2 linked regions of the Homo sapiens genome follow. The protein of the gene in region 2 interacts with the protein of the main gene of each other region in a pairwise test. Each region holds a gene or a part of one and is shown on either strand. Other genes may lie near its edges.

Region 1 (3,824 bases), on a different chromosome or scaffold from region 2:
ATTTAAAATTTTATAAGTGAACCTTACCTAAAAAGAACATAAACAGAAACTGGTGGGGGGAAAAGACCATACTCTAAATCATATCACCTTTTTATTTTTTTTTTGGATGTAAAATATTTTTTTAATTACCCAAGAACCATATTTATTAATGATAATACTTAGAACATTATTTGGAAAGTATTCTTTATATACTCTATTGAGGATTTAAAGCTAGTGACAAAACCTGATATAATCACCTTATGTGAACATACAGTCTTATAAATATTTGCCTTTGGCTATAAGAAGAAATGCATTAAAAAATAAACCTTCCCAATTCAAGAGAATAATGTATAATTCTAATATTTAACTTAAATGTGTAAGTAATATTCAGAAGAAATGGAGGAAATACATGGCTAAGTATATGTAATTCATCTTATTTCATCATGGTCTTCCCAAATCTAAAGTATATGAAAAGTGAGTAGTCCTATAATTCCAGTACTTTCACCGAGGTAGACACAGAATAAGTTATTTTTATATCAATATTCCACAAATCAGAGGTTTTCTTGAAGAACAAGGAAAACCTTAGCTTCCAAAAACAATGCCCAACATGCTATCAATGCAAATTAAAATTTACCAAATATATTCATATAATGAGAAGCAGCAGATTGGAGAAAGACACCAGAGAGTGATCCTATCATATCAATACCTGATTATTAAAAAGTACTGACTTTCTTCTCCTATTTTTTAAGGAAGGAGAGGATGAGCCATCCCTTTTGACCTGCTTCTTAGAGGGTGGCCATGTACCCTTCAGTTAACAACACAAGATGGTGTATATCTGTGTGCTGAGATGTTAACCATATTTAAGAAAGTTGTGCTACCACATCAGGGTCTTAAATCATTTGAACCAAACTGGTCTTCCCTCATGCCCCAAAGATTACATCCTGAGGAGAAAACTTTTCTACCAGATTAGAGAAATACCTCTTGACCCTAAACCTTAATCAATATATATTCTATCCATTGTGCAAGTTATTCTTTGCATGCTAAAATGTTTTTTTTTTAAAATAATCACACCCCTTTTTTTCAAAATATAAATGGCTAATTTTAAGAGTTTCAAATCTTTACAATTCACAATAAAATTTGTGGCAAAGCACAACCAGAAAAGAGCAGTGACATTCACAGTTACAGCAGGTATATGAATATTACTTCTCAAAACAAGCTTTTGTCTTTAAATTACAAGACTCATTTCCAATAATGAAGAAAATATTCAAATTCCTGCCTCATTACTGTACTGCATATTAACCCTACATAAAACTTTAGAAACTTAGGGCTAAGTAAAAACATCTATGGGGCTAGGATAACAATGGAGACCTTGATTCCTGGCTCAAGGATATAGCAAGACTTTCCCCTTCACAAGTTTTTCAATAAAAAAGTTATTATCTTATATACAAACTGAACCATTATGCAGTTCCATACTTGAAACAGAGAACACAGGTCTACTCAGAAGAATTATTTAATTCCATATTTGTCCTTGTGTGCTAGTCTTTTCAAATCATAGTGTTTTCTTTAGAGAAGTCATTTACCAAAACTAGTATCTGCTTTCTGGCTAATATGGGAAAAAAGCCTCAATATTGATCAAGTTAGTTTGAAAAGACAGTTTGAAATGTCAAATAAATGACATTAACACCAAAGTTAAACAACCACTCTTTGTAACGATCAAATGAAAACAGCCACATTCTGGGAAATGGAACAGAAAAGGATTCCAGAAAGGCATTTGAGATACAGATATCTCATTTGCCACTCCTCCCTCCAGCCCCAATATCCCAGTAATACCAGAATTTCACAGCCTTCAGAAAAAGCATACAATAAAAGCTGGGCATTAGAACAAACGTTAACACTGAAAGACAAACATTCTGAGAAACCTTAAACTGGGACTTCACAATACTAAAGATTAGTGTTTATTTCAGAGGCCAACTGTTTACTTCCTAATGTTAATGAATTAGAAAAATTTCACTTAGCATTCTTATTTGTGGCTTTAATCAGATGATAAATAAAATCTGTTTACATATCAACAGAATGAGTACAGTGTGAATTATTAAATTATGAATGTATCCACGAGTTTCCTCTAAACAGTATTTAAATAGTTTAGTTATAAACAAAAGTATCATATTCATAATGAATTGGCAACCACAAGTGCTTTAAAACAAAACAAAACAAGTGCATGTAGTACCAGCTACACAGGAAGCTGAGGTGGGAAAACAGCTTGTGCCCAGGAGTTCAAGGCCAGCCTGAGCAACATAGCAAGACCCTGTCTCTAAAAAAAAACACAACAAAAACAACAAATAGTATTTTCTCAGCATCAGTTCACTCCAAAACAAATGTTTAGTATTCTGGACATATCCCACATCTTTTTCTCTAATGTTAAAAAAAAAAAAAAAAAAAAAAAAAAAAAGGCGGGGGGGGGTGGGAATTAAGAAGTTTTTGGTGCTAATTTTAAAAATTAGTTTTATGAGGTTGAATACATCTATAAATTATTTAAGAAATATATTCAATTTTAAAAGCTATGTCTAAACAATGAGAGGAGAACAATGACCAACTGCTATTGCTATGGAGAACAACTTTTCATGCAGACCTCAAAAAATCTTTGTAAAATGAAATAAAATGGGTTTTGCCACAGAGTTAACGTGGCCAATCTTTAGGTCTATATATATAGTACTACATAGGCACTGTTATTTATTAAGCCCTTTGTGAGCTTTCACATCACACACTGCTGGTGGTACTATTTCTTAGGTATGTGAATGCACCTGGTATGACATACAACTTAAATAACCCTGTGCTGACACACAGAGCAAACCTATTGCTTAATGTTACTGGTATATTTTAATGTACTCATCATCTTTGTCAACTAAAATAATCTGATTTTATAAAAATTACTGAGAAGAAAAATCCGCTAAGACGTTCTGTTTTTCAGGGATCTTAACATCAGTGCATCAGATAAAATAAACACTTTACATATTTAAACACTTTCAAACTGCTGTTTCAAACAAATATACGCTCTTACAACAAGGACTAATAAATATTGATGACTCAGTATACAGGAGGAAAAAGAAATATTCTAAATCAGTGATTTACAATGAAGAGCAGTGAAAGGCAAGTCATCAACTGGTGGAACAAGGGTGGTGATAAGGAGGATATCCATCAGAATGAGAAAGTTATTAAGGAGAGGGTGTACTTTACGTGGTCAAAACAAGGCTGTAAGTCACCAGTTTGTGGAGACTTTGAAAAACAAGCTTTCATTCCTCTGATAATGCAAAACTATATACATAATTTTTTTGGACAAATACTTACTCGCCCCAACCCAGTTGTTTTTAAAAAGTATCAAAACACACAATGAAATTAAGTAACGTTAAAAGGTTAAAATTTTACTACCGTGTTTATTTTGGAATAGGAAAATCTAACAAAAACAATGTAATTACTGTTCGTGATGTTGAGTTATTCGAGAGTCTTAAAACATTTTATAAAGTGGTTTATTTAATTCAAACTGTTTATATACGCAGTTACTCTAAATATTCAGTAAATACTTAAATGAGAGTAAATAAAAAGCAACAAACGAAACTCCTAGGTCAGGCTGAGTCCAAAAAGAAAACTGTAACAAGCCCATATGTACACAAAATAAATATGCAGAAAAGAACTTTTCACTACATGTGAGCCATTACTATAAAATACAGCAATAAAATTCAGAAACTAAATACTATACAAAAGTGTTAGTAAACATAAAGCAACATACCTTTCTTTTTCTAATTCTGGGTCATGCTCAATTTGCACCTGTAATATAATCAGCATTTTAT
Region 2 (3,824 bases):
CTCACACTCTGATTTTAGTCCTCAACTCTGCCATTACTTACATGATATGCCACGCTCCACTGTACACAGGGAATTTGCAAAAGACCCTAGGGCCTGGTACTAGGCAAAGAAAAATAATTTCTCACCTCTCCTTCTTCAGTAAAAATAGAATCTGCTTTGCGGGGGTCAAAATGTTTGATCAGCAAACTCTTCAAGTGATTTTCCACAGTTTCCTGAACCTGCACTGGCTCAACACCTGAAAGAGAATAAAAGCAACTAGACAATGGCAAGCTGTCCATTCACTGTGTGGCTTTAGAAAGCAAATGGTCAAAAGTCTCTATGTGAATCAAATACCAAAGAATTGCTTCTGACCACTTATACATGTAAGGTTTTGGAACTCTTCAAAGTAGTTATCAATGATAAGACCAAAAAGCAGCACAGAACAGAACACACAAGTCTGGTCCACCCCTAACTTCATGGAAAGGACAGCACCATCTGCAGAGCCTCACTGAGGATAAAGACAAATGGCCCCAGCAACAGGTAGGGGGATGGAAAAACATCCCTGCCCAGTGAGGAGGGAGCAGATGGCAGCCAAAAGAGACACACTTGTATCTAATCACCGGGACAGCAGTGTGTCCACAAGCTTCCGGACAGCACGCACTTCAGTGATGTCATCTGCACCCGGCTCCGTGGATTTACAGTAAGACTCTACTTTGATCATATTAACTAAAAGCCATAATCACAGCCAGTCCTAAATTATCCGTCATTTACTGCTTGCTGTAATAGACGTCTTGAAAATGACACACTGAACACACACTGTATAATCCTATAATTCTACAACATGGTAGGGAAAACAGCTCAATGAGAATCACGTTTGCAGGCTACCAGTAAACCTCAATTACTGAATCAAAGATAAGAGGCAAGCAGATACAAATGAGTAAGATAAAGATAAAAATGAGTAAGAAGTTCAGCTCTTTCTTACACAAGTCTCAGAAACCAGGAAATCAAAGAAGGCATTGTATCAGTGTTATAAGGACCCAAAAGTCTATTTTTAAAAAAGTGGGGGTAACTAGCCAGGACAGGGGACACCCACAAAGCACCTGTCTGAATGAGCCACTCGGCCAGCAGGTTCACAGTCTGGGCCACAGCGGTGTAGTTTTCAGATAAGAGCTGGATAACATTCTCTGGAGACCCTCCTGCCTGAAAATACCTAGGGAAAGTAACAACAGCAATTACACCCGAATGAATGGAATGATGGACAACAGGAAGGTAAGGAAGGAGGAAGAGAATCAGGTTTCAAAATTTTTAAAGCAGCGGAGGGGGCTGGGTGCAGTGGTGCACACCTGTAATCCCAGCACTTTGGGAGGCAGAGGTGGGAGAATCACTTGAGCCTAGGAGTTCAAGAGCAGCCAGGGCAACGTAAGGAGCCCTGTCTCTCCCAAAAAACAAAAACAAAAATAGCCAGGCATGATGGCAGACGCCTGTGGTGGCCACCTTGCAAGGCTGAGGTGGGAGAACTGCTTGATTCCAGGAGGCTGAAGCTGCAGTGAGCGGTGATTGTGCCACTGCAACAGAGCAAGACTCTGTCTTAAAAAAATTTAAAAAAAAAAAAAAAGTGGCAGAGGGGACCCCCCCTTGAAGCCTTTAGTTCAGTTCGCGTTACTCTTGCTTTACATAGCACCTTCTGGGTGTATTACAAAACTTTCTCTAAATTACCCCCAGCCTCCTCCCAATACAGACACCTTTCTCACATACCTCTTCAGAGTGTTGAAGATGGAGGGTTCCATGATATAATCCCGGGTGGAAAATTTATGCAGGCATTCTTGCTGAACCTCCGCATCATCCTCTCCTTCTCCAGAATCATCCTCCTGCTGTTGGTAAATGCGAAGAGCCAGGATATTTTTTTCATTAATACAAATACCCTAATCTCACCTTAAATCGTATAATGCTGCCCATTTTGAAAGTATTCTACACACATTATTTCATTTGACTTTCATGACAATTTCATGAAATGGGCTGGACAGATAGTGAGTGGCTAGGAAAATGGGATCCAGGATCACACTGAGTGGGTGTGTACAACTCCTCCCTGGCAAACCGCGTTCCATGCTCACACAAGTTACCCAACCTCTCTGAGTGTCCATTTCCTCCTCTGTTAAGTGAAGATAATAATAACGCCTATTCCCATTTGGCTGTTGTGAGGATTCCATGAGCTAATTTTTGGAAGAACCCAGCATAATCCCTGACATTTCGTAACAGTGCAATAAATAGTAAACTATTATTATTATTGTTTTCACTATTCTTATTTCATACATGCCACTGAAGAGTAACAACCTGATTCTTGAAAGCGTGAGCCATCACTTACCATTAGAAAGTAAAGACCACTAACTCGCCTTGCATCCACACTTCTGGCTGGACTCCAGTCCCAATTCTATGTGGAAGCAACTTCAGGCCTGTCACTCCATCTAAGGGCAAAGCAGGCTTCTTCACCTGCTAATGACCATGTGAGGATGGACTGTGATCCCAAACCCTGTCCAACTTTAACACTGCCACCCTAACTAACAAGCAGATGCTTTTTGAACATTCAGTCTGCACTATGCTCATCAACCAAGGAACCTAAGAAAATGTAAGACAAGACAAGGCTTTTTCCATCAAAGAAGTTCACAAACTAATAGGAGAGACAGACCTCCATGCAACCTACTCTAACATAATGGGGCAAGAGCTGGGCCAGGGGTCAGCAAACTATGACCCAGAGCCGAATCCAGCCCTCTCCTATTTTTGCAAATAAACTTTTACGGAACACAGCACACCCATTCTTTTAAGGACTGTCTATGATTGCTTTCCCCCTGTAAGGGCAGAGGTAAGTAGTTAAGACAGAGACAGGCACAACCTAAAATATTTGCTATCTAGCCTTTTTCAGAAAAGTTTGCTCACTCCTGATCTGGACTAAGATCCTAAAAGCAGTGCTTTGGGAGCAGACAGAACCCGATGACTTCCCAGTAAAAGCTGTGGAGTCTTCTCTCAGACCAGATTTGCATGGGGAACGCTGAGCCCCTAAGGGCATGACAGAGGCCGGACTTCACCCCGAGCTTCATTCCCACGTTGTCTGTTCTCTTGGGCTTCCACCCTGGGCACTCACCTACCTGCCTCTTCCACCACCTCTTGGGTCATGCTATCTACCTGCTCACCAATCTAGAATTAGCCTGGATCTCTCTCTCCGTCTTTCCTCTCTTAAGCTCCAGACTCAGGTATCCAACATTCCATTCTCATTTCCAGTCAGATGTCTCACAAGTATCCAAACTCTTTAGGTCCAAAACTGACATCTCTTCCCTAGAAACAGATCTTCTTCCTACAACCCATATTTCCGTAAAGGTATCCTTCATATATCTACTTGTTACCCCCCAAACCTGAAAATCATCCTCAGCTTCTCTCCCTCACCCCACCCCCACATCCTGTCACAAAGACTCATCAGTTCCATCTCCCATCTGTCTATCCAAGGTGGTCCTTCTTTCCACATTTGCCTCTGCTCTTCCTTATTTTTTGTATGCTTGCAGTAGCAACATTCCCCTGAAGTCTCAGTCTTATTCCTTCCTTTCAATCATCTTTCACACCGTGGCCACAGTGATCTTTGTAAGCCACAAAACTGACGTCTCTCTCCTGCTTAAAGATTCCCATCTCCTTCAGGAAAAAACGCCCCAGCTCTAGCAAGAGCGTGCCCTTCCCACTTCCCCTGTCCGTTCTGACCTCTCACCACTCCCCATTTGCAATCTGTAGCAGGACTCATCTATTTGCATGTCTGCAGCTCTTAGTTTCCACCATCCAGACTGAACATCACGGTGGCCTCCTTA

What was found.
Region 1: the proteins of NELFCD (region 2) and ZNF638 interact in a two-hybrid assay, tested with the Homo sapiens proteins (one large-scale study listed by BioGRID and IntAct).

The regions. Positions count from the first base shown.
Region 1 is NC_000002.12:71,418,579-71,422,402, reverse strand, and holds part of ZNF638 (zinc finger protein 638), read right to left. Parts: intron 3,802-3,824; coding exon 3,764-3,801; intron 1-3,763.
Region 2 is NC_000020.11:58,984,119-58,987,942, reverse strand, and holds part of NELFCD (negative elongation factor C/D), read right to left. Parts: intron 1,851-3,824; coding exon 1,735-1,850; intron 1,190-1,734; coding exon 1,080-1,189; intron 236-1,079; coding exon 126-235; intron 1-125. UniProt on the Homo sapiens protein: Essential component of the NELF complex, a complex that negatively regulates the elongation of transcription by RNA polymerase II.